2 linked regions of the Homo sapiens genome follow. The protein of the gene in region 1 interacts with the protein of each later gene in a biochemical or structural test. Each region holds a gene or a part of one and is shown on either strand. Other genes may lie near its edges. The genes, in order: CARTPT and SDHB.

Region 1 (8,688 bases):
GAAAAGTGAAGTATCACTTATGAGTCAAAGCTTTTAGTTGTTCATTAAAGACTGTCCAGAACTCTTTTTTCCATTTGGAACAAAATTAGCCACTTTAGAGATGGTGGATGATCTGTCAGTCTGGGTCCCTGAGTGACGATGAATAGAACAAACTCTTTTTTCCATTTGGAACAAAATTAGCCACTTTAGAGATGGTAGATGGTCTGTCAGTCTGGATCCCTGAGTGACGATGAATAGAACACTCCATCAATTCTTGATGCACATGGGACACGAGTGAGAAATATAACTGCATATTTTTTAAGTCACCAAGATTTGGGAGTTGTTTGTTGTAGCAGCATAACCTAGTAAATTCGGTGCAAAATTAAGAAATAAGGCTGATGTACCTACAAAGTAAAATATATCTGATGGAACTGGTTGGGAGCAGAGAAAAATGAGATTAGAAATATGGCCAGAGCCATATTATAAGAAACTTCAACACCATGCTGAGAAGTTGACTTGAACCTATAGACAATGAACAATCACTGAATGATTCAAAATTGCTCCCTATTAAGTCATATAGTTAATTTCTTGGGTATTCTAATCAGCTGCTTTAGTGCTAGTTTTACACTTTCTGTAAGCTTAGGAGATCTGGATCTGGAAAAGTTAGAGGAGAAGATGGTGTTAGCGGTGGCATGTAAAGTGTGGTTTTGGCATGCCACCCCTGCCGCACTCCAACAAGGTGTGCTGTGCTGGGATCCAGATAAATGTTTCCTTGTCCTAGGAAACAATCTATCTCTTGGTCAGTGCTATCTCCCTATATCTGAAAAGGACCACTTTTCTCAGGCTAGACCTTTAGGTTAAAAGCTTGTTTTTAGTATTTGAAAAATGAAATCTTTTGGGTTCATCTGTGCTCCTACCACCTGTTTATTGGATCCAAATTTGGAACTATCTATTGCCACTCTGGATTTTCTTTTTGTGCTCCAAAGTTCCTTTTCAGGCTTGTTTCCCATTATGCTTCCCCGTCTCTCACATTCCCATGCACCCTGCTCTCCAGCAACCCAGAGCACTCAGTGCTCCCCAGATCTCCTACCTTGATGACTTGACTTTGCTGCCTGCCCGCCCCCAAGGTCCCAGAGTGGGATGTTTGCTATTGTTGGAATTCTACCCATCCCCTAGGACTCAGTAGCTCATTCAAAGGATGCCCCTTTTTCACGAAGATTCCCTCTTGTGGCAATGAATCTCTGACTTCTCTGGGCTCCTCTTTCTCTAGTAGGACCCTCATCTCACTAAGTCATTGTATTTTAGGAGTTTGTGGACGTGGGCACAAATGACTAGACCCAAAGATCCTCAAGGCAAGAAGTGTCTGGATTATCTCAGCAGTCCTCAAAATACTTAGCAGAGTTGTGAGCATATAGGGCACCCAGATTTTAAAATTAAGTCTTGAAATGGAAAGCTTTTCAATTGGAAGCTTAAAAAATTGACTGAAAAGCTTTGTTTAATTTCGCCTGCTTTGCTCCTTCAGAAGCAGTCTGTAAAGCACATGTTCTTTGCTACTGCATCTCCACCCCTCCCAATTTAGAACCGACTCCAAGTGTCCTTTACTTACAGATTATTTTCTTTCAGATAGTGATAAAGATGTTTAGTTAGAACACAGTGAATAGCAGTTCCTTTGGAAGGCTATGGCTTGGAAGTAAACAGAACATAAATGTCAATGGGAATTAATCTCTCTTCTGCAGGGAGGAAGAGTGGAGAGCAAACAATGTAGAAATGAAAAAAAGTCACCCAAGAGATTGCATATGTGTACCAAAGAGAACAGAGTGATGTTTAACTTGGAGGAAAGTGCAACTAACACAAATAAGGAGAAACAGTCTTAAATATGAATATTTAGGAAGTCAATAAAACTGAGGACTTACCAAAATTTAAATTGAAATTTTAAATTTTTATTTTATTTTTGTCACAGGGGCTCACTTTGTCACCCAAGCTGGAGTGCAGTGGTGGTGTGATCATGGCTCATTGCAACCTCAACTTCTTGAGCCCAATTAATCCTCCTACCTCAGCCTCCTGAGTAGCTGGGACTACAGGCATGTGCCACCACTTCTGACTAATTTTTTTTTTCTTTTCTTTTTTTTTTTCTTTTGTAGATATGTGGTTTCACCATGTTGACCAGACTGTTTTTTTGTTTTGTTTTGTTTTGTTTTGTTTTTGAGACAGAGCCTCGCTTTGTCACCTAGGCTGGAGTGTAGTGGTGTGATCTCAGCTCACTGCAATCTCTGCCCTGCTGGGTTCAAGTAATTCTCCTGCCTCAGCCTCCCAAGTAGCTGGGATTACAGGTGCATGCCACCACACCTGGCTAATTTGTGTATTTTTAGTAGAGATGGGGTTTTGCCATGTTGGCCAGGCTGATCTCAAACTCCTGACCTCAGGTGATCCACCTGCCTTGGCCTCCCAAAGTGCTGGGATTACGGGCGTGAGCCATTGTGCCCAGCCAGACCAGACTGGTCTTGAACTTTTGAGCTCAAATAATCCTCTTGCCTCGGCCTTCCAAAGTGTTAGGATTACAGGTGTAAGCCACTGCACCTCGCTGAAATTGAGGATGTTTTACTGTTGAACAAGACTTGGTTGGGGTGAGGGATGGGAGAGGAGGGTTAATGGTTAACAAAGTAGTCTGATATTTGGGAAATACGACAACCTAAGAGGCCAGTGTTATTCTGAGTTACATAGGAACAGAAATTATTCACAACTGAAGGAGAAAGGAAGGGAGAGAGAAATACTAAAGCTTAGGAAAAAACATCACTGTGGTGTTAAATTCTGCCATGACCTTCTCATTACTTAAAATCTTAGGGCTCTAGGGTTCTAATTTAGTAATATTGAACACATATGTTTTAAGGGGTGTGTGTGTGTGTTTTCTTTTTTCCAAGAACAATACAGACATCGTTTTCTTGCCAAGTCACAAATCAATTGATGGGTTATTTTTATAGTGAAAAGTTCAGGACTCCAAGAGTTAGGCATGAGTAAGAAGAGGTTTTTAAAATGTTCTCAGATAGCAGTATGTTGTAAGTAGATCTTGCTGGCACTGGTTTCTTGGCTGTCTGCTTATGAGATTTCTTTACTTGAGCTATTTCAAAGAGCAGGACTGGAGGCCTACTCTATCTCAGAAAAGATGATTAAGAGAGATTTGTTCACATTAAATCTCCAAAGACCCATCCTGGCCATTGCTTCTCTTTCATGAGGTGACCTGCCTCCCTTTTCTATATCTGGGGTGAGAAGTAGTAGTTAAATTCCATATGATTTTAATTGCTTGGGGCATCAGTGATGGGCTTTTTTCCCCTAATGGAGTCATTACAAAGTAGTAAGAATATACAAATTCTCCTAACAGGGCATAATATGAAGACTGTGGAATGTCTCATGCTTTTGTTTCTTTTTGAGTTTTAACTTACATAAAAGTTGTCTTTGGGAAGAAGATAGCCTAGAATTTACTATACCATGCTAGCTAAAGACAGTTTATAAAGTCATTCTGTTCAAGATGAAGAAAAGCCTGTGGTATGTAAGTGACAAAGATGCCCCTGGCTTGTTTCACAGGATTTTCCAAGAGTCCTTTCCCTAACCCCTTAACTAAATGTGCCTTCCTTATAAGAAAATGATAGCACCAACTCAAGTTCAGCAAGATTTAAACTTTGGATTTTTTTCCAATAGAAGTAGCACAAAGGGAAAGTTATTACTTGTGTCTGGGTAGAACAAAATTGGAGAGAAAGTATTGCATTGACAATATCTACATCCTTCAGGAAGAATAGGCTAAAATCTTATTTGAGATTATTTTTCTTCTGAAGCTTAGAATAGTTTAAAGATCACTGGAGATGGTTTTTGCAGTGAGTGTCAATATGTCTCTGTAAGGTTTTAACAGTAAAACGTGCTGCCACTGAAGTTTTCTTGTGCAGAATCAAAAGGTATGTGTGGAAGGCAGAGCTGAGGGAGGTGTTAGATACATTTTCAAGTTGGGTTTACCCCACAGCAAAATATTTTGATGCTGTTAATATGTGTGCTATTCATTAGAAGAGATATCACTTCTTGAATTGCTTCCCAGTGAGTATTTGAGTACCAATTAAATACTTGATAGTTGAAGTAACCAGGCATATATTGTGTATTAAACTATCTTAATGACCCACATAATCTGCTATGCAATAAATTTGTGGGAGAAAAGTATTGATAGATGGTTTGGATTGAGTAGTCATAGATATTTACACTGAGATTTAAATAACAGAAGTAGTGAGCCTTTTGGAAATACAGGAAGACCTTTCAAGGAGGGGTAAGTGCAAAGACATCAAAGTATGAATGAGATTGGCCTGCTAGAGGACCAGAAAGAAGGCCATGTGAGGTTGGAGTGGAGGAGTCTGGGGCAGAGTGGTAGAACATGAGGTGGAGAGGGGTGAAGATCATATAATGCTTTGCAAGTCAGGATGAGGAATCTAGATTCAGTGCTTAGTAAGATTAGGAGTCATTAGTGTATTTTAAGGGGAAAAATACTCTGGTTGGTGGTGAACTATGGAGTAGAGGAAGGCAAGAGAAGATAGGGTGGGGATTAAGTGGTAGACATTAAGTTGACTGGGGCAGCTGTCTAGGACTGGGTTGTAGTAATGGGGATGGAGAAGAGTGGATGAATTTAGGAACAGTTGAGGGAAAGATGGTGTGGTGAAGGAAGCCAGGTGAGCAAGCAGGTCTAAGCGGGAAAGCATTGCTTTTCCTACAGGAATTTTCCTGTGCATTCAGGCTGTAAGGATCTCAACTTTTAAAAAAGCCACATTGTTCTCCCAAGTTGTTGGGGAGCTGGTTCACCATTGACTTCTGATCTCTGGAGATATTTTCATAATCATGGAGCTGTCTTTCTTTTCACTCTTTTACTCTCTTTCTAGACAGGCTTCTTGGATACCAAGGGTTGGTGGTGGGTGGGGGGAGGTTCTGGGGATGGTTAAATTTGCCTGGGCAGCCTCAAAGTTCAAAAAGGAGGGACAGGGAAGCTTAGCTAAGAACCAGGAGTTTGACATACTTAATCTCTCATTTCATCCTACTGATGACTTTGTGAGGTATATCTTTTTAATCCTAGATCTACAAAAGAGAAAGCTGAGGCTTGGAGAGGTTCTTCATTTTGTTCAAAGTCATACAACTTTTACGTGGTGTAGCCAGGATGGGAACCAGAGCCTGGCTCTCTGCACTTCCAACACCACTGCTGAATCCGGGTTTGTCTGTTTTCCCTCTCTTCTTTTAACTATTGTCACACAGATTCCATCATAGAACCCATCACGTGGAGGGCCACTATTTCTCTTTCTTTTGTATAGTATGTTTGCTTCCCCTACCCCACAGAGTAAGGTGCTCAGCAAATGTGGCTGTCTGGAGGCAACACCCCCTTCTCACCGCCACACTTGGGGTTGGGGTGCGAGGCAAGGCAGGGCTGGCGAGGTGGATGTTGCAGCTGTCACCACTGCTAGGTGTTGGGAAACGACTCTCCTGCCTGTGCATTGACCCGAAGGCATTTTCCATTTCCTAGGCCCCTCCCGCTTCCCGTCCCTCACCTCTAGCCCCTCGGCTTCAGCTCAGGCCCCTCGGGGAGCATCCCTTGCCGTGAGACTGACAGCCTTTGGGGGCGCAGGGTCCTGTTCTCTGCGCTCTAGCCCATCTGTGCGCAGAGCCTCGTTCCCAGGCGCCTGGAACCCGGCGGGCATTGACGTCAAGCGCCGGCGGAGCGCTGCCTACAGACGGTTGACCCGGGCCCTCCTCCACACCCCCTTCCTTCTTCGCCTCCTCCCTCTTTCCTGCACGGGGGCTCGGGCTCACTATAAAAGGTGGGAGCGCGTGGTGCCCCAGCAACGACGAGTTTCAGAACGATGGAGAGCTCCCGCGTGAGGCTGCTGCCCCTCCTGGGCGCCGCCCTGCTGCTGATGCTACCTCTGTTGGGTACCCGTGCCCAGGAGGACGCCGAGCTCCAGCCCCGAGCCCTGGACATCTACTCTGCCGTGGATGATGCCTCCCACGAGAAGGAGCTGGTCGGTATTCCCCTCGCTCTCGACCCCCTTGAGCTGTCGCCTTGTCTCTTCTCTTGCACGCCTCCCTCCTCCCCCCACCCCCACTCCTATTCCCAGAGTCAGGGCGCGGGGAGCTGAGCGCAACGCCCAGGCACCCACTGCCATCCGAAGAGCGTCTCGAGCTCACGGGCTCCTGGCAGTCTGTTGAGCGAATCCCTCATCCCGGCCCCTCTGAGCAACAGGGACCCCAGCGGCTCAGAGACCCGCGGTCAGTACCTGGGACAGCGTCCGCTAAGTTTCCACCCCTCGACCATTCCCTGTGTCCGCGGAGTCCCACCGCAGAGTGCGTGTGGGTCCGGGGCTCCTTATAACTAGGGCTGGAAGTGCGCACCTGGGCTGGGCTCGCAGCCAAGGCGGCAACTTCAGGCTCCGAAGCGGTGTGTTGCAGATCGAAGCGCTGCAAGAAGTCTTGAAGAAGCTCAAGAGTAAACGTGTTCCCATCTATGAGAAGAAGTATGGCCAAGTCCCCATGGTAAGGTTTGTGGTCACTCCCTTCCCGTGTTTTTCCAAGAGAAAGTACACCGCCTTGAATCGTACACACAGTCTTCTCCGTAGGATGTGGCTAAATAACTTAGGTAATGGGCTTGCAGGATTCTGTGGGCTCCTTCTTCCTTCCCGGGTGAGGAAATGGGAAAGCAGGAACAGGGGTTGTAAGAAAGTGTAAGTCTATTGTTTGTTGCTCAGGAAAAAGGTCTGATTTTTTTCCCCTCTGAGAGGGCAAGAAAAGGAGCCAGGAAATGTGATGCTCCCCTTCCCACGCCCCCCAACCCTCGCCACTTAAAGGTGGAAGAAACTAGGATAAAACTAATAATGTAAGTTTCTTTAAAAAATGTACTCTCACTGAGGTTATAAGCACAAGGCTCCCTGTTTCAGATCTGACTGTACGTAGACCTCTTGTGATGGTGATGGGGTCCAATTGCCCCTTTCAAGAGACAGAAATTGCGTTGACTGTGAGACTTGCCTGTTGGGAACCTGGGTTTGTTCATACTCGATGACCACACATTTTGTTGTTTCAGTGTGACGCCGGTGAGCAGTGTGCAGTGAGGAAAGGGGCAAGGATCGGGAAGCTGTGTGACTGTCCCCGAGGAACCTCCTGCAATTCCTTCCTCCTGAAGTGCTTATGAAGGGGCGTCCATTCTCCTCCATACATCCCCATCCCTCTACTTTCCCCAGAGGACCACACCTTCCTCCCTGGAGTTTGGCTTAAGCAACAGATAAAGTTTTTATTTTCCTCTGAAGGGAAAGGGCTCTTTTCCTGCTGTTTCAAAAATAAAAGAACACATTAGATGTTACTGTGTGAAGAATAATGCCTTGTATGGTGTTGATACGTGTGTGAAGTATTCTTATTTTATTTGTCTGACAAACTCTTGTGTACCTTTGTGTAAAGAAGGGAAGCTTTGTTTGAAAATTGTATTTTTGTATGTGGCATGGCAGAATGAAAATTAGATCTAGCTAATCTCGGTAGATGTCATTACAACCTGGAAAATAAATCACCCTAAGTGACACAAATTGAAGCATGTACAAATTATACATAATAAAGTGTTTTTAATAATTGCCCATAGTGCACTGCTGTTTTCATATAAGTAATTTAAGTGGAAATGGTGAGATTAATCATGCTGTTGTTTTCAAAGAAAAATATTTTAAAAATAGCAGCCTATTGGGAAAATGGCACCTTAGCTCCAAGGAGTTTTGATCGTTAATTAGAAGTTTGCCAAGCCAGTTTTAGTATACTCTATTTTTCTTTGATTGCAGCGATGTGGTGTGTGTATGTGTGTGTGTATGTGTGTGTGTGTGTGTGTGTGAGAGAGAGAGAGAGAAAGAGAGAGATGAATGAGATGGAGATGGTTGGAGTTGAGGTTATATAATTTTGTTTATTAAAACCTTTAGCCAGACCCTTTACTTTAAACAGTGAGACCAATAAACTATAAACAGTTTCATGTTTTAGTCACATTAAAAGCAATTTGAAAAATTAGAAATTTTGTTTTGACAACTCCCTTATTAGAAAATATACATTGATTTAAAGATATGGGCTGTTTAGGGTTGTTATTTGTCTAAAGACTCCAAGGTTATAAGACCCATTCATTCCCACAAGTAAATTCACACTCTTGGAAAAAATTCTCTATTCCAGGAGAAAGAGTCATTTCAGAAAATAGTTTTGAGGGGAACAAATAAAAATTGGAGGAGGTGAGAATTCAACTCAAGAAATTAAAACATATTAAATGTAAAGTTAAGTAGCTTTTAAATATTTCTGAGTGCTTATTTGAGGTCACATTTCCAAGGGTTTAAACCAGACTAAGTAACATCTAAGTAGCAGCATCATGAGAGAAATAAATGTTAACAGCTTCCTAATCCAAACTCAAGAGGCACTTGCATAATAGCAGAATTGAAAAATAAAGCCCCTCCACGGATTCATAGGGAGTTTTCTGATAGAAAATATTCTTATACACAGTTACCATTTTCAGTGTGATTATTATTATTAGCATGCCTAATCTTGCAAGATAGATATTATTACTATTTTTCAGAGTAGAAAACAGAGGGCAAGAGAATTATGGAATTTGCTTACACCATATAATCCTAAATAATAATTTTAGCTGTAATCCCTTTGACTCCAAAGATTTGTCCTTTTTCTCCATGT
Region 2 (8,508 bases), on another chromosome or scaffold:
TGAAGCAGGAGAATTGCTTGAGCCTGGGAGTTGGAGACCAGCCTGGGCAACAAAATGAGACCCCCATCTCTACAAAAAAGCAAACAAAAAATTAGCCAGGCTGGGTGCGATGGCTCACGCCTGTAATCCCAACATTCTGAGAGGCCAAAGCAGGCAGATGACTTGAGTCCAGGAGTTCAAGACCACCCTGGACAACATGGCAAAACCCTGTCTCTACTAAAAATACAAAAATTAGCCAGGCATGGTAGCACACACCTGTAATCCCAGCTTCTTGGAAGGCTAAGGCACAAGAATTGCTTGAACCTAGGTGGCAGAGGTTGCAGTGAGCCAAGATCACGCCACTGCACTCCAGCCTGGGCAACAGAGCAAGACTGTGTCTCAAAAAATTTGCCAGGTGTGGTGGCACACTCCTGTAGTCCGAGCTACTTGGGAGGGTGGGGTGGGAGGATCACTTGAACCCAGGAGGTCGAGGCTGCAGTGAGCCATGATTCCATGCCCTACACTCCAGCCTGGGCAACAGAGGGAGACGCTGTCTCAAAAAAAAAAAAGAAAAGAAAATATAAGACATTGCCCCCTAGGAACTATTAGAACTAATGAACAAATTCAGCAAGGTTGGAGGACACAAAACTGGTATACAGAAATCAAATGTAGTTTAGTTTTTTATTATGCATAATTTGTCCATGTTTATTTCAACCTATGTCTGTCAGTCTTCATTTTATATTGTACCATGTTTTAATTATAGTTCTATTTCCTTCTAATCCGACTCTGAAACCCTACTTTGTAGCTATGTATACACACACAAAAAATAGCTATATTCTTTCATTTTCACAACAGCATAATTCTTTTTCTGAAAATACTGGCGTGTAGCAGATATTAGCAGATAAATGTATTTTTCTAGGCTAGGCATGGTGGCTCACACTTGTAATACTAGCACTTTCTTTGTGAGGCCAAGGCAGGAGGATTGCTTGAGGCCAGGAGTTTTGAGACCAGCCTGGGCAACAATAGCAAGACTTAGTCTCTACAGAAAAAATGTGTGTGTGTGTGTGTATACATATATATTTATATATGTATTTATATTTATATATTCATATTTATATAAATATTTATATTTATATATTCATATTTATATAAATATTTATATTTATATATTCATATTTATATAAATATTTATATTTATATATGTAAAACCCTGCTTACCTAGAAAAAAGCCTGTAAGTACTGTTAAAAAAACAAAAATTGGATTTCTATACACTAGCAATGAACAATCCTAAAATGAAATTTAAAAACTATTTTCCATATAACAGCATCAAAAAAGAAATTCTTAGGAACAAATTATATGGGCAATAAGACAAAACCCCATCTCTACAAAAAAAGTTAGCTGGGCTTGATGACCTTCCTGTGCCTATAGTCCCAGCTACTTGGAGGCTGAGGTGGGAGAATCACTTGAGCCTGGGAGGTCAAACCTGCAGTGAGCTGTGATCACAACACTGCACTCCATCCAGCCTGGGCGACAGAGTGAGATCCTGTCTCAAAAATCAAATAAGTAAAAGACTTATATGCTGAAAAACTGTAAAACATTGTTGAAAGAAATTTAAGAAGACATAAATAAATGGAAAGACATGCCCTGTTTGTGGGTTGGAAGACTTAATGTTGTTAAGGAGGCAGTGGTCTCCAAATTGATTTCCAGATTCATTGCAATCCCCATCAAAATCCCACCTGCCTTTTCTGCAGAAGTTGACAAGTTGATTCTAAAAATCTTATAGAAATGCAAGGGACCCAGAATATCAAACAATTTTGGTATCTATGTAAAATCTGAGAAAATTTATGTTGTACTCTTTAATGAGCCCTACCTATTAGGAAATTTAGCATGAAACAGCTTAAAGAGAGGACTTTGACTTTTTAATATTTTTCTCTGTCCCAGTATGATCTGCAGGATTACTTTTTACCTTTGATTTGAATTTATTTATTTATTTATCTATTTATTTATTTATTTTTTTGAGACAGTCTCGCTCTGTCTCCCAGGCTGGAGTGCAGTGGTGCGGTCTCGGCTCACTGCAACCTCCGCCTCTGGGGTTCAAGCAATTTTCCTGCCTCAGCCTCCCAAGTAATTGGGACTACAGGCACGTGCAACCACACCCAGCTAATTTTTTGTATTTTTAGTAGAGACGGTTTCACCACGTTAGCCAGGATGGTCTCAATCTCCTGACCTCATGATCCACCCGCCAAGGCCTCCCAAAGTGCCTCCCAAAGTGCTGGGATTACAGGCGTGAGCCACCCACCTGGCCAATTTGAAATTTTTATAGGCTGCAAATATTAGCCTTTGTAATGTAAAAAAAACAAAGATGTTGTTGTCATTTAAAATATGCTAGGACAAGAACAGGCAGATCATTAGAATAAAAATGTAGCAACAAAACAGACTCAATTTTATCTAAGTTCCCAGTATTAAATATGGGAGAAAGGTATTACAAATAAGAAGCAAAAGAGGATTTAGTCAGTGATTTGGGACAACTGATACAGTTTTTGCAGTTTTAGGGGAGTAACTTAAAATTTTTTTTAAGTAGAAAAAAATGTAAAGTATTTATCAGACCTCAGGAAGGGCAGTGGTCTGTTTAGGCTTAAAAGTGATAGATAATGTTATAAAAGAAAGAATAGCCACCTTTATTAATGTAAACATTTAACTCATGTATGTTTAAAATTCTGTTACCAAAATTAGAAGTCAAATAGCACATTACTATTGGCAGTGAGGGAGGAAGCAGAAATGGCAACAGATATAATATATAAGAGCCTCAGATCATGAAAAAGAATTTCCAAGACCCTGGTAAACAGAGGCAAAGAATGTGGACAGACTGAGTCTCTAGAATGAGTCCTCTGGAACAGAGCTTTGTGCGGGCAGGTGGTATTCGTCTCTTTTATTCTCTGCTACATCCCCAGCATCTAGAACAGAACCTGGCAGAGTAAATGTTCAATAAATAATTGGGAAATAAAGAAAAATTAGTAAATTTATGACAAACATTCAACCTATGTAGTATTCAAAAGTCTCGATTTAAAACACTGAAAACAATAACACTTCTCCAGTATCAGAATAGCAAAGGTTTTTAAAGCTTCCAATTCCCAGTGTTAGCAGAGGTCCAGCAGAAAGGACGTCTACATAGTGCTGATACAAATACAGATAATGGGCCAGACGCAGTCGCTCACACCTGTAATCCCAGCATTTGGGAAGGCTGAGGCAGGTGGATCACTTGAGGTCAGGAGTTTGAGACCAGCCTGGCCAACATGGGAAAACCTATCTCTACTAAAAATACAAAAATTTGCCGGGTGTGGTGGCATGCACCTGTAATCCCAGCTACTCGGGAGGCTGAGGCAGGAGAATCGCTTGAACCCGGAAGGTAGAGGTTGCAGTGAGCCGAGATCGCACCATTGCCTCACACCCATAATCCCAACACTTTGAGAATCCAAGGCAGGAGGATCACTTGAGTCCAGGAGTTAGAGACCAGCCTGGGCAACATGGCGAAATCCCACCTCTACAAAAAAATACAAAAATTAAGCTGGATGTGGTGGCACATACCTGTAGTCCCAGCTACTGGGGGGCTGAGGCAGGAGGATCTCTTGAGGCTGGGATGCGGAGGTTACAGATCTGAGATCGTGCCACTGCACTCCAGCCTGGGTAACAGAGCAAGACCCCGTCTCAAGAAAAAAAAGAAAAAAAATGAAATACAGATAGTACTAAAGGAAATGACGTATTTTTAAGTATATTTTTAATCTCATGCATAGAAAATTAGTGAGTGGAATGGGGGCAGGGTGGCAACCAGAAAATAGATTTGTGGAGCACTTACTGTATGCCAGGTACTATGAAAAATTACATATTTTTATGTAATTTTCACAGTAACCCTGTGGTGTAAATATTAACTCTACAGATAAACTGAGGTTCAGAGAGTAATTTCCGTAGAATCACAGTTTCTGCATGATGATTATTATAGTTAAACTATGATTTATATGTCAGATGCTGCTGTAAAGATCTCGTGTGTATTAACTCACCTCCAGCAATCCTGTGGGATGCAGGTGCTGCTCTCTGCACTCAGTGGATTAAATGCCTAGGCAGAAATTAAATCATTTGCCTGCAAGCTGGTAAGTGGCTCAGCCATGGTGCAGACCAGTCTCTTGGCTGCCAGGCCGGCACTCCAGGTCCCACGCCCAGGGATGCTCCGCTTAGTACCATGTCACTGCCCTTGTATGTTCTAGGAGGCTCACAGTGATTTGACTGGGGGACTGTGAGTGATTGGGTGTCTTTTATTCTCTGTACTATGTCTTCTCTTATGGTTATGTATTATTAATTACTATTTAAAACTATTGTCTACATCCTAAAAATCAAACTAAAATTTGAAATAAATTATTTGGAAAAACTTTGCAGGGAGCTTCAGAAGTAAAAAACAAAAACTCGGCCACTGTATGGAAGTTGTGTCATACTTGTCTACTACTACTTTAGCTTTCCATTTCCTAGAAATGTGTTTGCACTGTGATCATCAAAATAGAACTGTGCAGTACTTAAAATGTAAGAATCTGCAAAAACAAAACTACAGAACAAATTCCGAAGGTGACCTGAGAAGACCAAATGGATAAGCTAATACATCCAGGTGTCTCCGATTATATTATGATAAAGTGTAGGGAGGTTGAACGTTACATAAATACCACTGGATATTTTTCTTTGTTAGATGTGGCCCCATGGTATTGGATGCTTTAATCAAGATTAAGAATGAAGTTGACTCTACTTTGACCTTCCGAAGATCATGCAGAGAAGGTGAGCATTTCATTCCTGTTGGGCTCCAGATACTTGTGGTCTTCCAAAGAGGCTTGGGCTGGCCAAAGCTGATAGAGACATCTGGAAAACAGCTGCAGCTCTCTGCTGGGTGAACTTGCTGTGCAACCTAATTCCTTTTCTTGGGTAAATGCATCCAAAATTCTAACCATGGTGCAAGTTCTGGTTTCTGAGTTTACTTTCCTTCAGGAGCATTCTATCCTGTGGTTACTGCATCTGGCGGTCCCTGTGAGCTGCTCCACGCTTCAAGGCCTAGCTAGGACCTGCTGGCTGGCACCTTCCATGCTGCTGAGCTCTTTTATTAAGGGAGCAGTGGAGAGTTTCTGTCTGGCACTTATGCTTGTCCAGCAGGGGAGATGTGTGAGTCTCCCTCAGCTCCCAGCATGACATGTCCTTGGTAGCTGTGTTCTGGATTGGCTGGTACAGTGTCTCCCTCAGCATGTGGTTACTTGTGCTGCTGGTGCCACATGAGCCCATTTGAGGCAGTGTGCAGACTAACATTTTCTACATGAATAGCAATGTATTCATTTTCTGTATTAGAAAAATATAATTACTGCCGGGTGCGGTGGCTCACACCTGTAATCCCAGCACTTTGGGAGGCCGAGGCGGGTGGATCAGCTGGCGTCAGGAGTTCGAGATCAACCTGGCCAACATGGTGAAACCTTGTCTCTACTAAAAATACAAAAATTAGCCGGGCGTGATAGCGGACGCCTGTAATCCTGGCTACTCGGGAGGCTGAGGCAGGAACCCGGGAGGTGGAGTTTGCAGTGAGCCAAGATCACGCCACTGCACTCCAGCCTGGGCAATAGAGCGAGACAGTCTCAAAAAAAAAAAAAAGAAAAATATAATTACTAATGATGGTATAATAGGGATATAAGTGGTTTTTTAATGTGAATTTAAGCAAAACAAGTTAAAGAAAACCCAAGAGATACTTTAAAGAAAGTTGATTCAGGTGGTTCTCAGGTATAGCAAAAATTGCACAGGGTGCAGTGAAGACCGACTGGCCTGATGTCCGTGGAGCCAGACTGTGTGCCCGGCTCTGTTCTGTGCACTGGACATGAGGTAGATGACTGTGCTTATTATCTACCTTCAATTTAAAGGTGAGGCCCAGAGAGGGTAATGGACTTCCACAAGGACACATAGAGAGTGACTTGAGAGCCGGGAGTCAGCCAAAGCTGTCAGACTCCAGACTCCAGATCTGCTCTCTCAGGCACTGACTTGGCTTGGAACACCTGGGATAAAACAAAAGCAGAGAGTAGCTTGATTCTGTGAGGACACTGAGCTTTTTTCTAAGAAAACCTTAAAAAAAAAGGAAAAGCCAGTATTGATACCGGCCCATGGCTTTTTATCTGTTCAGCTGTACATTTCAAGCATTTCAAGTCTTTTAAGACATCTGTTTTGATTCAGCTAATCTTATTTAGCGTTGCAAATGCTGATGGATATTATGATAGTTCGGCTGAGTCCTGCTGTTCAGGGAACATTCTGCGGCAGTTAAACAGCAGCCTTCCCCATTAAGTCCTGGCAACACAGGAAAGGTAGATGCTTTTCAGTAACCTTTCCCTGTAGGACTCTTTCAGAACCAAGAACATAAGGTGTGACCCATCTGGACTAAAAAAAATAAAGCAGAATTGTATCAATTGCTACTCCTTTTTATTCCCATCTTGTTTTTCTTATTTTTTTTTTAATTCCCATCTTGTAAGAGAATTCCCAGGGAGCCTTTTTGAGAGAAAGTTCATTGGATTTATTTTTTTAATTTTTATGCCATTTCTTGTAAAAGCAAACTGCTCTAGTTGGATGCCAGGTATACATAAATGTATTGATAATATCCAGTCTCTTGGGGAACTCTAGGAGTATTTGCTTAAGACACATCTTTGGGTTCCCTTACACTCTTTCTAAGATTTACAGGAGAAGGAGAGTCTTACTGTCTTTTCTAGTCTTATGAAAGTGATAACCGACTGGGCGCAGTGGCTCACGCCTGTGATCCCAGTACTTTGGGAGGTCTAGGTGGTAGGCTAGCTTGAGGCTAGGAGTTTAAGACCAGCCTGGGAAACATAGACTCCCTTTCCATTAAAAAAAAAAAAAAAAAAGGTGAGGCCAGGCATTCAGAGGCCGAGGCGGGCAGATCACAAGGTCAGAGTTCGAGACCAGCCTGACCAACGTGGTAAAACCCCGTCTCTACTAAAAATACAAAAATTAGCCAGGTGTGGTGGCGGGCGTCTATAATCCCAGCTACTCAGGAGGCTGAGGCAGGAGAATCACTTGAACCCGGGAGGCAGAGGTTGCAGTAAGCCGAGATCGTGCCACTGCACTCCAGCCTGGGCGACAGAGCAAGACTCCATCTAAAAAAAAAAAAAGATGATAACCAGTGCAACTTTCTCAAGCAATCAGGTTTCTCTGACCTAATGATCTTCAAAAAACAGCTTCAGAGGACTGGCACTAGAGGTTTAGAGTACATAATCATTTTTAAATTCCAAAACACCCAGGAAATTTCCATATACAGGAAGTAGGTCCAGGCTAAGAAAATTCTCATGTCGGGGTCCTGGGTCAGCACGTTTTTTGTTTAGTTTGCTTTGCTTTGCCTCAGTTTCATATTAGTTCATTCTTCTCCTCTTTGGAAAGTCCATGCTGAGTCAGCTTTTGTGGATTTCATAGCCCCAGGGTACTATGCTGCGTATTTTATGAAGACAATAGAAGAAGCCTTACCTCTGTCAAGTGTAGTGGCTCAGGCCTGTAATCCCAACACAGTGGGAGGCAAAGGCAGAAGGATTACTTGAGGCCGTGAGTTAGAGACCAGCCTGGGCAATATAGTGAGACACCTGCTCTACAAAAAACAATTATTTTTTTCTTTTTTTTGAGATGGAATCTTGCTCTGTCACCCAGGCTGGAGTGCAGTGGCGCGATCTCTGCTCACTGCAACCTTCTCCTCCTCAGTTCAAATGATTCTCCCGCCTCACCCTCCTGAGTAGCTGGGATTACAGGCACCCACCACGACTTATATTTTTAGTAGAGACAGGGGGTTACCATGTTGGCCAAACTGGTCTCGAACTCCTGACCTCAAGTGATCTGCCCACCTCAGCCTCCCAAAGTGCTGGGATTCCAGGTGTGAGCCACTTCACCCAACCTACAAAGAATTTTTTTGAATTCGCCGCACATGGCGGCATGTGCCTGTAGTCCCAACTACTCAGGAGGCTGTGGTGGGAGGATCGCTTGAGCCCAGAAGTTTGAGGCTAAAGTGAGCTACAGTGAGCTATGACTCCACCACTGTACTTCAGCCTGGGTGACACAGCAAGACTCAGCCAAGAAAAAAAAAGAAGAAGAGCTATCTCTTAATAATCTGTATCCAGGTCACTTCAACCTTAAGATGACCAAGACAATGTTGATTTACTTTACTTTTGGGTATTGTGTCTGTTAGATTTGTGTTCAAATAACAGTGGCTTTAAAAAATCTAGGTTTCCAGGCGTGAGCCACCACACCCACCCCTACTCAGGAGGCTGAGGCAGGAGAATCACTTGAACTGGGGAGGCGGAGGTTGCAGTGAGCCAAGATCGCGGCATTGCACTCCAGCCTGGGCAACAAGAGCAAAACTCCTTCTCAAAGAAAAAAAAAAAAAATAGGCTTGACGGGTGTGTGGTGGCCCAGACCTGTAATCCCAGTGCTTCGGGAGGCCAAGGCAGGCAGATTACTTGAGCCCAGCA

The links.
Region 2: the proteins of CARTPT (region 1) and SDHB form a complex in vitro, tested with the Homo sapiens proteins (one study listed by BioGRID).

Annotation. Positions count from the first base shown.
Region 1 is NC_000005.10:71,713,439-71,722,126, forward strand, and holds CARTPT (cocaine- and amphetamine-regulated transcript protein preproprotein), read left to right. Parts: upstream 1-5,836; 5' UTR 5,837-5,855; coding exon 5,856-6,014; intron 6,015-6,441; coding exon 6,442-6,525; intron 6,526-7,069; coding exon 7,070-7,177; 3' UTR 7,178-7,607; downstream 7,608-8,688. UniProt on the Homo sapiens protein: Satiety factor closely associated with the actions of leptin and neuropeptide Y; this anorectic peptide inhibits both normal and starvation-induced feeding and completely blocks the feeding response induced by neuropeptide Y and regulated by leptin in the hypothalamus.
Region 2 is NC_000001.11:17,029,347-17,037,854, reverse strand, and holds part of SDHB (succinate dehydrogenase [ubiquinone] iron-sulfur subunit, mitochondrial isoform 1 precursor), read left to right. Parts: intron 1-4,709; coding exon 4,710-4,795; intron 4,796-8,508. UniProt on the Homo sapiens protein: Iron-sulfur protein (IP) subunit of the succinate dehydrogenase complex (mitochondrial respiratory chain complex II), responsible for transferring electrons from succinate to ubiquinone (coenzyme Q).